2 separate regions of the Homo sapiens genome follow, and region 2 is linked to region 1. A link means that fine-mapping ties the variant in region 1 to the expression of a gene that starts in the linked region. Tissue or cell type: whole blood. Region 1 holds a variant in brackets; the other region holds the start of a gene. All regions are shown on one strand. Distances are between the middles of the regions.

What was found. PIP is the estimated chance that this variant, and not a neighbour inherited with it, causes the effect.
Region 2: CORO1C starts here. The variant in region 1 is fine-mapped to the expression of CORO1C in whole blood (INTERVAL, PIP 0.99).

The regions. Positions count from the first base shown.
Region 1 is chr12:108,682,058-108,690,160 of GRCh38, reverse strand. The region is part of intron 2 of CORO1C (coronin 1C); the gene reads left to right. Among named protein-coding and RNA genes, the nearest start is that of CORO1C, 45 kb to the left of the region's middle. The variant G/A (reference allele first, on the strand shown) is at 3,907.
Region 2 is chr12:108,727,294-108,735,396 of GRCh38, reverse strand. It overlaps CORO1C (coronin 1C), which reads left to right and starts at 3,879. Exons shown (of 11, transcript NM_014325.4): 1 at 3,879-3,968. LOC105369969 (a long non-coding RNA gene) reads right to left here and starts at 1,988. Exons shown (of 3, transcript XR_945328.4): 1 at 1,945-1,988. RefSeq lists enhancers at 295-796, 3,205-4,008 and silencers at 3,621-4,130, 4,321-4,600.

The sequences.
Region 1 (8,103 bases):
CTTTTTGGTCTGCTGCTGAGTCTCTGTTTTCCATGCCGCTGTCCCCTTGTCCCATGACCACAATCACTCTAGCTCCTCCCCGTGGAGCAGCAGGGGCTTAAGAAATTCAAACAAAACATGTATCCACATAAATAATACTGTCATAAGAAAAAGGAAGTTGAAAAAAATGGAAAACCCACTTCAATAGATACGCTTTTGACTCCTTTGAACTCTGCACAGTGTGAATGGAGCCCTTATGCTTGGGCTGAAAACTTTTCCTCTACTTCTGAGCACATGTGTGACTTAACATTCTCCTTGCTGAGTTGAAGAATTCTCAGTATGTATCACCCAAAGCCAAAAATAAGTTATGATTGAAATTTGGGCACATAAAGTGATTTTGATACTCATTTTTTCCTAAAATGAAAACTTAGATGAATATTAGGTAGGGGTTTGAACAATGTGGAAATCTTTTAACTGTTCTTTGAGTCAGGTCATGTAAAGTATCTTTGTTTGCCTTCCCCAGGATGGGGTGGGGGCTCTTAGGCCCTTACATCTTCGGGTGGTGTAACCAGTCTGGATAATAGGCATAGAGGACTGCAGATCAGGAGATGGAAAAGTACTGGAAGTGAGACAGCTGCCTGAGTTGGATTAGATAAGGGAAACCGTGTAGAAAGCAGTCTGAATCCAGCACCCTAGGAAGGTGTGGGTTTATATGATACACTCCAGAATGCAAACTTGAAAGAAATTGTGTGTGGGATACCTTGAGCTTCTTAAAGGGGAATATTTGATTTGACTTATCACTCGAATGAATGTGTCACTTTTTATCACCATGGGAATTTATTACTTTGTGAAAACATACATTAGTTATGAGAAAGAGTAGGCCTGCTGGGTAAAGCGTTGTGCGACTTTAACATAATGTTACATTTCCTTTCTTGCAGGAACCAGTGATTATCAGATTGATCCATCTTTTTTTGTTTTTTCAGAGATGGAGTCTCGCTCTGTTGCCCAGGCTGGAGTGCAGTGGTGCGATCTCAGCTCACTGCAACCTCCGCCTTCCGGGTTCAAGTGATTCTCCCACCTCAGCCTCCCAAGTAGCTGGGATTACAGGTGCCCAACACCATGCCCGGCTAATTTTTTTTTTTTTTTTTTCTGAGACAGAGTCTCATTCTGTCGCCCAGGCTGGAGTGTAGTGGTACGCTCTCAGCTCACTGCAACCTCCGTCTCCCAGGCTCAAGCAATTCTCCTGCCTCAGCCCTCCCGAGTAGCCGGGATTACAGGCATGTGCCACCACAACGGGCTAATTTTTGTATTTTTAGTAGAGACGAGATTTCACCATTTTGGCCAGGCTGGTCTCGAACTCCTGACCTATCTGCCTGCCTTGGTTTCCCAAAGTGCTGGGATTACAAGTGTGAGCCACCGTGCCCGGCCTGTATTTTTAGTAGAGATGAAGTTTCACCGTGTTGGCCAGGCTGGTCTTGAACTCCTGACCTCAGATGATCCACCTGCCTCGGCCTCTCAAAGTGCTGGGATTACAGGTGTGAGCCACCGTGCCCAGCTTAGATTGATCCATTTTAACACCAATTGGTAGTGTCTTCAACCACAAACCAATATGTGGGTCAGAAATAATTATGTGAGGAATCATTCTTACATGAAGAAACAGTCATTCTGAATGATCTTTTGTAATATGTAGGACATATTGGAAGCAAAATTCCCAATGTTGAATTTCGAGAGTTTGGGAAGGTGAACATGGCTGCGGTACATGTGTAATACACCACTAGCTGCTTTAAAAACACACCCCAGCACAGAACTTTATTGAGACGTGTCTGTCAGAAATTTTCTGTACATGTTTGTGTACATTAACAGTTTTTTTTATTGTACTCAGTACTGCCCTCAATATATAGGATGAGTCTACTTCTTAAATGTGGATTCCTTTTTAGAAGGAGATGTGAGATCGATAAATAAGATATACTGGGCTGGGCACGGTGGCTCACACCTGTAATCTCAGCACTTTGGGAGGCTGAGGTGGGCAGATCACCTGAGGTCAGGAGTTTGAGACCAGCCTGGTCAACATAGTGAAAAAAAATACAAAAATTAGCTGGACGTGGTGGCGTGTGCCTGTAATCCCAGCTACTCAGGAGGCTGAGGCGGGAGAATCGCCTGTACCTGGGAGGTGGAGGTTGCATGCAGTGAGCTGAGATTGCACCACTGCACTCCAGCCTGGGTGACAGAGTGAGACTCCGTCTCAAAAAAAAAAAAAGGGTCAGAGGGGATACATTGTTAATAAGTGGAAGCTGTTGTGATTTTCCAGTAAGATTGATAGGAAGTGCCCTTACAGCTAAGCAATATCATTTCTTCTTTTTTCTTTTTTTAATTTTAATTAAATTGTTATTATTATTATTGAGACAGAGTCTCGCTGTCACCCAGGCTGGAGTACACTGGCGCGATCTTGGCTCACTGAAACCTCTGCCTCCCAGGTTCAAGCGATTCTCGTGCCTCAGCCTCCTGAGTAGCTGGGACTATAGGCACACACCATCAAGCGCAGCTAATTTTTGTAATTTTCGTAAAGATGGAGTTTCATCATGTTGGCCAGGCTGGTCTCGAACTCCTGACCTCAAGTGATCCGCCCGCCTCAGCCTCCCAAAGTGCTGAGATTACAGGCGTGAGCCACTGCACCTGGCCTTATTATTATTTTTTTGAAACAGGGTCTTACTCTGTCACCCAGGCTGGAGTGCAGTGGCGCGATCATAGTTCACTGCAGCCTTGACCTCCTGGGCTCAGGTGATCCTCCCACCTCAGCCTCCCAAGTAGCTGGGACTACAGGTGCGCACCACTACACCTGACTAATTTTTATATTTGTAGGGACAGGGTTTCGCCGGATTTCTTAAGATTTATGTTGAATTTAGTGTGCCTAAAGAGGAATGTTTTTTGCTAAGTCATTTAAGTTATTGAACTTTCCTTTTATAGCAATTTGATAAAGTTATATTTTTACTGATGCTTACATTTTGATTTTCATTCACTTTCTCCCCGCAAAATGCCCATTGGAGGAAATGTTGCCTAACTCTGTGGGTTTAGTTGAAGTATCAGTCTCCAGGAACTCGGCTGTGTTGTAGCTACTTCAAGATTTTTAAGTGTTTTCCCCAAAGCAAATGATAGTGCTTGTATCTGGGACGGTTTCTGCCACGGTGAAGGTTGCTGGCTGGAACATGCTCATAAGACATCACCCTTAGCTCTGGCCAGCCACGTGGAAATTGTGCCATTACACCTCTCCCTTGTGCCAGCTGTATACATGCTTTGGAAGCTGAATTTTCCTTTCGGCTCATGTTGCTTGGCTCTGGGCAGGCTGTACTGGATCTTTCAGATAATAATGTCTGTAGGCCAGTGTCCTGACCTATTTCACCAATGTCCCACGAGTTTATGAACTGGCTCTGGAGCAGAGCCTTTGGGAAACTTGGTGCTGGCCATTTTTGCCACCTGTTGGGTTGACATGCTAGTAATCCCAATCATTTGGAGTTTTAGCTAGAAAGGTATAACAAAAGCTATCCTATGGCATGTGATTGGGACTAGTAAGTAATCAATGAATCAAAATTTATTTAAAGCAAGGAGTCTAATGGCTATTACATTTTCAGCTAAACTACTTCAATTTCATGCCAGAAAAGTAGTAATATTCTAGATTAAGCAACAGAGGTGATTTATCCCTAGTGAAATAGTGGACTGATCTGTTAGTAAAGTGAAGTTTTTCTATCTCTAAGCTTTAGAAGATTGGTGGGAGTTTCTTAAATAATTCATTTTTTAGTTTAAAAAGATATCTAAAAGCTGGCTTTAATTCTTGTACATCTTCCTTTCAGCCTCTGCATTCATTTAAATTTGCTGCTTAGAGGTTCAGGTAAACTGTGTTGTCACCATGACATGTGGTGGATGTCTTTCTGA[G/A]TGGCCCCTCACAATCTAGCTAATTATACATGGATTCTTTGGTTTGTTCACTACATGATAAATCAGTATGTGTCGTGCAGACGAATGAGAATTGTGTTCTTATTAGATCCTAGTGCAAAATGTCTTTCAGAATGATGTTTCCTCATCTTTACCATATAAGGCCGTTATTAGTATGGTTTCCTTTAATCTCCATGAACTGGAGCCCTCAGCAGTTTGTAAGTGCCCAGCTTTGTATTTTTAATAACGTATGCTGATTTGGTGAAATATGTTGTTGTGCTTTTGTTTTGATTTCATTATGAGTAAGAAGATACTTAGAGGTGTAAGCCCTTGAAAGCAGGATAGCTGATACTTGACTGTGTGTTTGTGAACATCCAGCATGCCAAATAATCAGTGTACCTTTAAAATGCCATCTACCCCCATACTGTCTTCACATTTTTGTTCTTTTATCACTGTCAGATATTTAGTCAATTGCTTTTCTCTTGTGCTACAGTAGAATACTACTTTCTCTGTTTTATTTAAGGATTTATGATGACATCACAACCAGAGGAAGCAGCTGCTTGTAGAATATCATTTTTTATTAACTGTGTTTCTGATGGCCAATTGCCAATAATTTTTAACATTACTTGTGTGCCTTTTTTTTACAACCCATGGCATAGTGGAAATTTTCTTTCCCTATCCAAATCTAGTATGGTTGGTCAGTGATATTTTAGATCTTTGCTTCTTGACTTTCTCTGTGCCTCAGTTTCTTTATTTGGAAAATAGGGTGATAAGATTCCCACATCTTAAAGGTTGTCATGAGGACAAAGTTATCAAGGTCTTCAGACAGTTCCTAGCTTGTAATTTAAGTACTTAAAAAGTGTTAGCCATTGTTATTATTTGTTTTGATAGAAAGGACAGAAATAGCTGGCAGTTGCTCTTTCAGTGACATTCAGGTTCCAGAGAAAATGTTGAGCTCTAGTACTTTCAGGCTGTGGATTTATTGGGGCTGAGCTGGGAATGGCAGTAATGCTTATTATTATTCTCAGATATCTTGACTGAAGAATACTGGTGAATAGCTATTAACTTTTAGCCAGGGTTATTTAATTTTAACTTCAAAAAAGAAGTCATTTAGTAAGAAGCTTCTTAGTATGTAATTAAGAACAACTAGTGCTAGTACTTCCAGATTCCCCTCAAAATTGCTTTGTGTTTGAATAAAAGCGCTTCTTAGCCCAGATTGGAAAAAATCATTTGGTGTTCTTGGAAGTTCAGAGCTCAGTACTATAGTTGGCCATCAAGGATGCCAAATGTGGTTTCCTGGGCAGAGCCTAGGAATGCAAAGACCCTGATGTAAAACAAAACAATTCAGGTAGAAAAGCTTTTTTCCTTGGGAGTAAAAAAAAATTTTAATGCAAATTTAATAATAATGCATTGGTGTATTTCTTAACTTTATTATATTTTAAATTCTTTTTTTCAAAATAAGATGTATCAAAATAATAGGACACACATGTACTCACAAGATTAAACAGATGTTAATATTTTGCCATATTTGTTTCATATCTCCCCTTTTTGAAAAAAGTAATAAAGCATAACAGATACAGGTAGAATACCATTCTTATTTATTTTCTCCTTCCCCAGAGGTAATCTTTTCTTCAAATATGTATCATATTTTTATTACATATATGTTTATCTGTAACATGTACTTTTATTTCGCGTGCCTTAAACTTTTATGTAAATATGTATTCCCATACTGAAGGACAGTGAAATTGCTTCTGCTTTTGCCACTATTTCCAACAATGCGGCAATAAATATTCCTCTTGTACAAAATATGGGAGCATCTCTCTCACCCAGACCACCTAGAAGTGGCATTGCTGGGCTGGACTTCCTCACCTCTACCTGTTACCAAATTGCTCTTGAAAGGAATTGTAACAAGGTGTTCTGTAAGCAGTTTATGAGTTCCTCTTTCCTGACATCCTTGTCAGCACTTATATTTATACTTTTACATTTTCACCAGTTTTGATGAGTATAAAATGTGACCATGTTGTTTTAATTTGCAGTTCTCTAATTATCAGTGAGATTGAAGTATCTTTTCACACATCTATTGCGTCTTCAGATTTTCTTCGCTGTGAGTTCTCTGCTTGTGTAATTTGCCCATCGTTCTGTTTGGTTGTTGATTTTGTTAGGTATGTATGTTGCATACCTCTTCTTGCACTTTGTAACTTGTCTGTTCATTTACATTTTTAAAGAACAACTCACACTGCTGAATTTGGTTTGCTTTTGTTGCTGTTTGTGAGGAGCTTTGCATCAGTATTTATAAGTCATATAGGCTTCAATTTTTCTCCCTTATACTGTCCTTTGTATCAAGGTGTTACATTCCTTATATGATGAATTCAGTGGCACTTTTCTTTTTTCTGTTCTCTGGAAAGCTTTGTTTGAAATGATCTCTTCCTTGAATATTTGGTGACACTCACCTGTAAAACCATCTGGGCCTAGTGTTTTTTGGTATTTGCTGATTGATTGATTGATTGGGAGGTGGTGATGGGTAGAGTTATACTACTGATCTTTTATGGTTATGGATCTAATTTACATTTATTTATTCTTGAAAATCTTTTGATGTTACTTTTACTTCTGTGAGATTGTGTATTTCATCTAGATTATTCAATTTTATATATATTGTCAAATGTTATTCCTAGTGTTTTCATACTCTGTAAATTTCTACTTTATTTGTAAGTTATGTCCCTTTTAAAATTATTGGTATTCATTTGTGCCTTATCTCTTTTCCTGATCTATCCAGTTTAGTTGATTTTGTTATTTATTTTTTTTCCACTGACTTCTTTTTTTCCTCTTTTTTTTTTTTTTTGAGACAGAGTCTTGCACTGTTGCCCGGACTGGAGTGCAATGGTGCGATCTCAGCTCACTGCAACCTCTGCCTCTCAGGTTCAAGCACTTCTCCTGCCTCAGCCTCCTGAGTAGCTGGAATTACAGGCACCCACCACCATGCCTGGCTAAGTTTTTGTATTTTTAGCAGAGACGGGGTTTCACTATGTTGGCCAGGCTGGTCCCGAACTCCTAACCTCATGATCTGCCTGCCTTGGCCTCCCAAAATGCTGGGATTACAGGCATGAGCCACTGTACCTGGCATCTTTTCTAATAATTTTACATTCTTTGGATGTACTCTGTTCATTTTCTAACTTCTCAAGGTAGCAACTCAATGCATTAATTTTCAGTCTTTTCTACTATATGCATTTAAGACTGTCCATTTTTCACTAAGATCTGTTTTAGTTGTATGTTGCACATTTGGATATGTTGTGTATTGCTCAGTTTTAACTTTCATTCTGTTATCCATTATGATTTTTAAAAAACAATTATTTAGTAAATTAAAATATTTTCAAATGTACTGGAGATTTTTGGTTTATTTTTCTATTAATTTTTAATTGTATTGCATTATACTCAGAAGATGCTCTACCTGCTATTGACTCCTTGGTATTTTTTGAGATTTGCTTTGTGGTCTCCTAATTGATAATTTAAAACAAATTAATGTTTAATGTATGTTTGAAAAAAGTGTATTTTTAAATGTTAGGTACAAGGTTATATATATTCATTAGATCAAAGTTGTTAATTTTTATAAAATCTTCTGTATTCATATTAATTTTGTCTGTTTAATTTCTTAAATCTTTGTTGACATCTCTTACGATTATGACTTTGTCATTTTCTTCAAGTTCTGTCAACGTTTGCCTTAATTATTTTGAAATTATATGGTTAGATGAATTACAGTTTATAGTGGCAATATAACTTTCCAGTGAATTGTTTCTTTAGATGTCAGATAGTGACATTAATCGCTAATAGTGCATTTCACCTTAAAGTCTGTTTGTTCTGGTATTAACTACCAGGTATACTTTTTAATATGCCGCCCTCCTTTATTTGCCTTTTGGTGCCATTATTTTTTTAAAATATGTGTAGCTGGATATAATCTAATCTGAGAGGCCTTGTCTTATCTAGTGAGCTTAATCTTGCATTTACTACAAATCATGATTTATAGTTGGTTTTATTTCCACCATCTTTGTGCTTTCTAGTTTTCATGCTTTTTTTTCTTAAAAAATTTGTCTCTGCTTTTCATGAGTTGCATTCATACTTTCTTTGGTCCTTTTTTTCTTTTTATTTTCTCTTTCTATTGGATTGAGCCAGTTTTTAAATTCTAGCTATTGTAGTACACCTCCACCC
Region 2 (8,103 bases), 45 kb before region 1:
GAAGTAAGCAGCTCTCAGCTGACCACATTTGGGATAGGCATGGAGTGAAAGTGAGGTGGCATTGCTTCTGGCATTGGGTGCTTCCTGTGCAAGAATCACCTCCTCAAATGCAGGGCTCAAACCAGGAACTGAAAGAGGCAGTCAGAAGATGAAGGCCTTGGGATCTTTCGTAGCATATTCCATGGCTGCTTTTTGGCGGTATCATCTGGCGGGGGGAATTCTTCTAATTTCATCATTATCATTTCATCACTTCTAACTTCATCATTTATCTATGATCTCATGGAACCCCAAGATTTTTTTATTTTTATTTATTTCTATTTTTTTTTTCAGAGTCTCACTCTCGCCCAGGCTGGAGTGCAGTGGCGCTATCTAGGCTTACTGCAACCTCCACCTCCAAACTCGAGTTCAAGCAATTCTTCTGCCTCAGCCTCCCAAGTAGCTGGGATTACAGACGCGTGCCACCATGCCTGGCTAATTTTTGTATTTTTAGTAGAGACGGGGTTTCATCATATTGCCCAGGCTGGTCTCGAACTCCTGACCTCAAACAATCCGCCTGCCTCAGCCTCCCAAGTGCTGGGATTACAGGTGTGAGCCACCACTCCTGGCCGGAACCCTGTGATTTTTAAACATCAACATGTTTTAAAACAACTATTTTGTGCTGGGCACTGTGTTGGGTGCTTTGCCACGTCCTAATTCATTGAATCTAAACTCCTGAATATTCAAAACCACTTCCTGAAGCATTTACATGATTCCCAGTGATATATAGGCAGAAGAATAGGGCTCAGCTCAGAGGGGAAGTGACTTGCTGAACGTCACACAATGAGTAATAGGTGGAGCCTGAATTTAAACCTAAACCGGCCAGAATCCAAAGTCCACGGTTTTTCTGTTCTGTCATGCTGCCACAGAGGCAGTTTAGTGTAATGACTAACTGGCTAAGGGTGCAGGCTCTGCATTTAGATGGATGTGGGTTCTACGTGGTTCAAGCCATGTGACTTGGACAAGGAATTTAACTTCTCTGAGTCTTCAGTTTCCTCACCTTTATAGGTGGGGATTAGGAGTCCCTTCTGGGCTGGGTGTGGTGGCTCATGCTTGTAATTTCAACACCTTTGGGAGGCCAGGAATTTGAGACTAGCCTGGGCAACAAAACAAGACCCCATCTGTACAAAAAGTAAAAATATTAGTGAGCAAAGTGGTGTGCACCTGCAGTTTTAGCTGCTTGGAAGGCTGAGGTGGAAGGATTGCTTGAGCCTGGTAGTTCGAGGCTGCAGTGAGCCAGATGGAGCCACTGCTCTCCAGCCTGGGCAAAAGAGTGAGACCCCGTCTCAAAAAGAAAAAAAAAAAAGAATTATTTCTGTGGCCATAGGATTGTTGAGCAATTTCAGAAGATTCTGCATGTAAAGCACTCAGATAGTGCCTAGCATGTCTAAGTGATGGATAAATGTTAGCAATAATCTGTTTCCAAAGAATAAGCTAGCTTACTCCGTGGTTTCCAGTTGGAACTCGGCCGGACGCGGTGGCTCACGCCTGTAATCCCAGCACTTTGGGAGGCCGAGGCGGGTGGATTACAAGGTCAGGAGATCGAGACCATCCTGGCTAACATGGTGAAACCCCGTCTCTACTAAAAATACAAAAAATAAGCCGGGCGTGGTGGCGGGTGCCTGTAGTCCCAGCTACTCGGGAGGCTGAGGCAGGAGAATGGCGTGAACCTGGGAGGCGGAGCTTGCAGTGAGCTGAGATCGCGCCACTGTACTCCAGCCTGGGCGACAGAGCAAGACTCCGTCTCAAAAAAAAAGGAACTCAAAGCACTTTACCAATCTTCATTTTCCCCAAAGCACTCAGAACTCACTGCTATCAATGCCCCTGTTTAATTTATTAACTAGTGGATTTTAAAAAAACAACTTTTATTGTTCAAAACTATTGAATTGTGGGCACAGTGGCTCATACCTGTAATCCCAACACTTTGGGAGGCCGAGGTGGGAGGATCTCTTGAGCTCAGGAGTTTGAGGCCAGCCTGGGCAACATAGCAGGACTTCATCTCTACAGAAAAATGTTAAGAATTTAGCTGGGCATGGTGGCGCGTGCCTGTAGTCTCAGCTACGTGGGAGGCTGAGGTGGGAGGATTACTTGAGCCCGGGAGGTCCATGCTGCAGTGAGCCGTGGACTGCCCCACTGCACTCCAGCCTGAGCGACAGAGCAAGACTGTGTCTCAAACAAACAAAAACAAGTGAATTGTTTTTGAGCCTCACCATATGGCAGGCACTGCAGTAGGCGTTTCATCACGTTTATCTCATTTAAATAAAGTGAGTGGCAAATCTTACTGCAGGAAGGGTGCTGAATTCCTCCTATTAGGAGTGGCTGCTTGAAGGCAAAATAAAACCCATCCTTTCATTTTGTTGAGTCCCAGCAGTAGCAGCAACAGGTACTGTCGAGCGTTTATCACAAGCCAGGAACTCTTCTAAGTATATTACTATTATCCTGGTGCAAAAGTAATCGCGGTTTTTGCCATTCCTTTTAATGGCAAAAAGTAATGCCACGATCATGGCTGCTAATATGATCTCATGGAACCCTGTGAGGGAGGGGCTGTTATCCCCATTTTACAGATAAAGAAACTGACCCTTAGAGAGGATAAATAATTTGCTGTGATAGCTGTCTTAGTTCAGGTCAAGCTTGATTTAAATAACACACGTTTCTGAGGCTGACGCTTAAAATAAAAAATCCCCCTGTGAATGGCAAAGATGCCTTGCTTTGGGAAGTAAATAGCCCTACCCCACAGTCGGTTCGGTTCCCCAGGCTCTGTTTCCTCAAATCTCGGTATTTCAGAGCTTGGTGTTTCAGAAAGGGACTTTAGCTATTAACAGGACAACTTCTTCATGCTGAAGATTAGGGGACTCAGGCCCAAAGAGGTAAGAGAACTGTCCCAGGTCACACAGTCTGACGGCCGCAGAGCTGAGGCTCAAATTCCCGTGCTCCGACTTTCAGGCCTGGGCCGCCGAGTTATTAAGGGACTCTGGCCAGGGAAAGGAAGGGAGGAACCCTGAAGTTTCCATTCCCTCACCTGCGAAATGGGGTCAATCACGGGCCCTCTTTGGGGTTACGTGGGTGTGGCCCAGCCCAGGGGCGGCCACTCTGCACTAGGAATGTGACAATGGACGGTTCAGGGAGGGCTGGAACGTCGGCAGTCCTCAAGGGAGGTGGTGGTAGGGTGTGACGGAGCCAGGGCGGAGCCTCGGGAGCCAGAGGCGTGGATTCGCGAATTCGGGGCGGGGCTTGGGGTTTAAACGTTGAGATGGGGTAGTGGGCGGGGCTTGAGATGCTAGGAATAGGGTTGCGGTCCTTGGGCGGGGCTTCTGGAAGACGGGGCGGGGCTTTGTGAGGCCGCTGGGCGAGTTCTGAAGCAGTGGGAGGGGAGCCGGGCTTAGGGAAGCAGGAGGCTGGTTTAAGGACTCGGATAGGCAGTGCGCGGGGCTCAGAGGAGCTAATGTTCCTGTATTGAGGGGCTCTGGGGGAATCTTTGAGGAGCCAGGGGACGTGGCCTTGCAGAGCCTAGCGGGTCAGTGGGCGGGGCTCTAAGAACCCCGCTCCGGGGTCTAAGGAGCAGTGGGCGTTGCTCGGAGGCGCCTGTGGGCGTGGCCCTCTACCACTCAGATGACTGGAGAGCGGGGCGTGCGCTTGGGCACCGCCTGCATCCCTCGGTGCGACCAGAGGGGGCGTAGCGAGGCGTGGAACGTGGGGTGGGAAGCGGGCTTCCCCTCCGGAAGTGGGCGTGGCGCACAGCGGCCCGGCAGCCCTGGTTGGGTCCCGCGCGGCGCGGGGGCGGGGCCTACGCGCGGTGGCGGGGGCGGTGGCGGCTGCCCGCGCCCCTCCCCCGCACGGCGCTCAGTGCCAGGCTGGAGGCGGCAGCGGTTGGAGGCTTCGCCCGGCTTTGCAGCGGGGACTTCGGCGGCGGCGCCTCAGGCACCTCGGCCCGGGTGAGCGGCTCGCGCCCGGCGGGGGCAGCCTGAGAGCGAGTCGGGCGGGCGGACCTGTCCTCTGAGCATGTGCCTGCGCCGCCTGACAGGAGCCGGCGGGGCGAGGGGCAGGGCTAGGTGGAGGGGACAGTGCTGGGTGGGCGCGCGGGGCGCGGGTTCACGGGCTGGGTTGCAAGGGGTTAGGGCCGGGGGCTGCTGTCGGGGGCTCGGGGAAAGGGAGTTGGGGACCGAACCAGGTGGCGTGGGGAGCGTGAAGCAGGGTCCCTGTGGGGAGGAGGCTTTCGAGGTCCGGAACGCTCCTGGCCGGGTGCGGAGCCGCGGGCCGAGGTGGGACGAGGCTGCCCAGGGAAGGCTTTTAGGGGTCAGGGATCGCCTGCTTGGGCGAGGTGCTGGGAGGGAAGGGCTGCTTCGGGCGAGGCGTAGAGCCCGGGGGCTCCAGGCCTGGGGACTGGGTTTGGGCCGCCCCAGGGAACGAGTGGGTGGGGGCGGGTAGGGGCCGGGCTCACGTGGGGCCGGGGCGAGCTGGGCCCTGCGTCGGGAGGGGCGAGGGCGGCCGCCTGGCCTGCGGGTTTCCTGGCTTTGGGTGCGAGACCAGCTCTGGGCCCTGCAGATCTCGGTTGGGGGTCAGGCGGGGCGGGGCAGAGCTGGAGCTGGAGTAATGTGGGTGGGGGCGGCTTGGGAAGAGGCTGAGCCCGGCCAAGGGAGCAGAGGGCTGGGACTGGCTGGGGGTTGGGAGGGGAGGAACGAAGCAGGAAGGCTGTCGGATCGGGGGCCCAGGGTGTCCGAGTGAACTGGGTGATTCAGAGGTGTGTTTCCCTAATAGCGGGGCAGCTGGCGAGGGACGCAGTAAAAAGGAGCGAGGTGCAGGTGGGGCCCCGCTGCGCCGAAATGACTGAGGATGAGGTCAGACGTGGAGGGTGGGAATGCAGAAACCGAGCTCTCCCGCCTGTCCCCACCGGCGCACGCTCCCCAGCTCTCCGTCTCTCAAATGATTTGAATGTGTTGGGGGAAGTGGCAGGCTGCGGTGAGAGCTGAGAAGAAAGGGGCTTCCTCTTGGAGGGAGGCGCTGGCCCTGGCATCCTTTTTTGGGAGTGTTCAAAGGATTTTGAACGCTGGAAAAGGAATCGTAGGCTTTACTGCATCACGATTTAGAAACACATCCTATATTTGGCCGTAATGTAGGCTGCCCTTGTTTTGTGGTGTCTAAAGTGCTTGCTCTACATGTTGCAAACGTGGGATTCAGAGTGCGAAGCAAATTGCAAGTTGTTCATTTCCCCCGGCATGGTAAGATACAAAGGCTTTTCCCTCCTATAAGACATTTGAAAAGAATTGAATGTAGTGCGCGTTTAATAAACTGGTCCTGGGTGGCGAATATATTTACTTTTGGAAATAGTTACCACAAAATATTAGGCCCTCTTACCGCAGCCTTTCTGCCTGGGATTACATTCTAAAACAGTACTTGTAGGGCTCTTAGTCACTCTATATAATAATGCATCTCATTGTCCTTATCTGGCAGAACGTTCTCCTGACACCAGGGCCTGCTGGAATAGACAGAAACATGATTAAGTATAAGCAGTTGCTTTGTACCGTCTGTTCAGTTGTGAAGGCAAATAGATACCTGTTTAATATTAATTCACTTTCTGCATTCCCTGTAAAACTGAAGAAATGTGCAAAATCTATTTTGGACTTGGTTCTATACATTTCAGATGATTTAAGGAAACTAGTATTTTTGGTTTGGAGGTATGTTTCACAGTCATAATGTTTGGCTATGAAGCATAATAGTAAACATTGGATCTGAGAAATCGCATAAATAAGTAGGGAAAAAAGTGAAATAAAACTGAGAATTGTGTTGTACCTTAGGTCTTGAAGTGCAGTGTTTCGTGGTGGAGGTTAGTCGTGTGTACTGAGGATTGGACAAAGATTTGGTATAAACGTCAGGAGCACACATTTTTGACAAATATAGAACCTATCTTGTCCATATTTATTTTGATTACTTGTGGAAGGTACATTAAAGCCTGATGAATTTTAATAGATACATACCGATGAAACATAACTGCACACAATATTGACTTTTTCATGATCCTTTGTTACTTTGCCTGCAGATTGTGCTAATCAGCATTTATACTTATTTATATATAGTTTAGGATTAGATTCGGTGTCAGTGAATAGCATTTTTTTAAACACCGTTGGATTTTTTGATAAAAGTTTTATGTTTAACTTATCTGTCACTTCTGGGATCCACTCCAACCATGAGGAAGAGAGTCACTCTAACGACTATGAGATGGAATGTTCAAAAGGATGAATATCAATTCTTAGTTATATAAGTGGGTATGTCGACGAGTCTCTTCTTTATGATGGCAAAATTTTAATTTCTCATATTTTGATTTGTCACAAACTGGTACTTTAGAAACATATTATTAATTGGTCTGTTTTACCTTTGACCTCTTTTCCAGGGGTGGGGCAATAATAAATTTGAGAGCTACTTGCATTTTCAAGGTACAAATCCATGTGATAAAACCTCTTAAGCTTGTTTTCCATTTATGACTTCTCTGTGTTACTGTCTCCTTGAATTATGAAAACTCTTTTCTGACACTTGTATGTCTTTTTAAACTTAAGATACCTTTTCTGTATTAAAACAGAATTCTTCATGAATATTTCAGTATGACCTAGTACCTAGAATGTTAAGTAATAGAATCTCTCTGGGTTTTCTTTGCCCTAGTTCAGATCCTTTAAAGTGAGTGAACAAGATTCTGTACTCCTTTCTGAGTACTTTGTATTTCTAGAGTGCAGAATGGAACTTTTTTTGTTTTATAACAGCTTCATTGAGACATACTGTACAGTTCACCCGTTTAAAGTGTACAGTTCTGTGGTTTTTGGTATATTCACAGAGTTGTGCAGCTGTCACCACAGTCAATTTTAGAACATTTTCATCCCCCCCAAAAAGAAACCCCATACCCCTTAGAAGTCCTCCCGTTTCATGTAAATGGAATCATACACTATGTGGTCTTTTGTGTCTTGCCCTTATTTAGCATATTTTCAAGGTTTATATGTGTGGTAGTATTGTATAGTACTTCATTTTTTTTTTTTAATGGTCAAATAATATTCCATTGTTTGGATATGCCGTATTTTGTTTATCCATTCATCAGTTGATGAACATTTGGGTGTTTTTCCTTTTTGGCTATTATGAATAATGCTGTGAACATACGTTTTCATTTCTCCTGAGTATTTACCTAGGAATGTAATCGATGGGTTGTATGGTAACTCTATATTTAACTATTGGAGGAATGGCCAGACTTCTCCAAAGCAGCTGCACCATTTTACGGTATTCACCAAGAGTATATGAAGGTTCTAAATTCTCCACATTCTTGCCAACACTTGTTACTCTCTGACTTTTTGATTCTAGTCATCTGTGTTTCCCTAATGGCTAATGATGTTGAGCATCTTTTCATGTGGTTGGTGAACATTTGTATGTGTAATCTTTGGAGAAATGTCCATTCAAATGCTCTGCCCGTTTTTTAATGGGTTGTCTTTTTATTGGTGTTATAAAAGTTGTTCATGTATTCTAGATTCAAGTGCCTTATCAGCTGTATGATTTGCAAAAATTTTCTTGGATTCTGACATGTCCTTTCATTTTCTTGATGGTGCCCCTTTTTAGGAACAAAGATTTTAAATTTTGATGATTTCCAATTTATGAATAGTGGGGTCTTACTAGTTAGAAATTAGACCTTAAACCACACCCTCCTCAATATTTTGGTTATATAAGTTGAAACCCAAATGTGAGAGGACTGGGGAAAGGTTTGAATTAATATATTTTAAGGTATGCTATAGATGAAAAAGGATTCATCAGGGAACATGCCATTCACCTGTTCAAATCCTCTGGTGACCTCACCTTTACCCACAAAATAAAGTTCAGACTCCTTAATGAGGTGTGGAGTAAGGTGGGCTCTGATTTCAGCCTGCTTTATTTCTCACTATTCCCCTTCCAATGTCTTCATCTCTAGTGCCACTCCCTGAAACATCCCAGCTTTCAAATCTTGTGATGAATTTATTACTTCATCGCCTTTCTACTTCTAGAATCCCACTTGTCCTTTGGGACATGGGTCATGAGGTTTTTCCTCCATGAAAACTTCCTCAT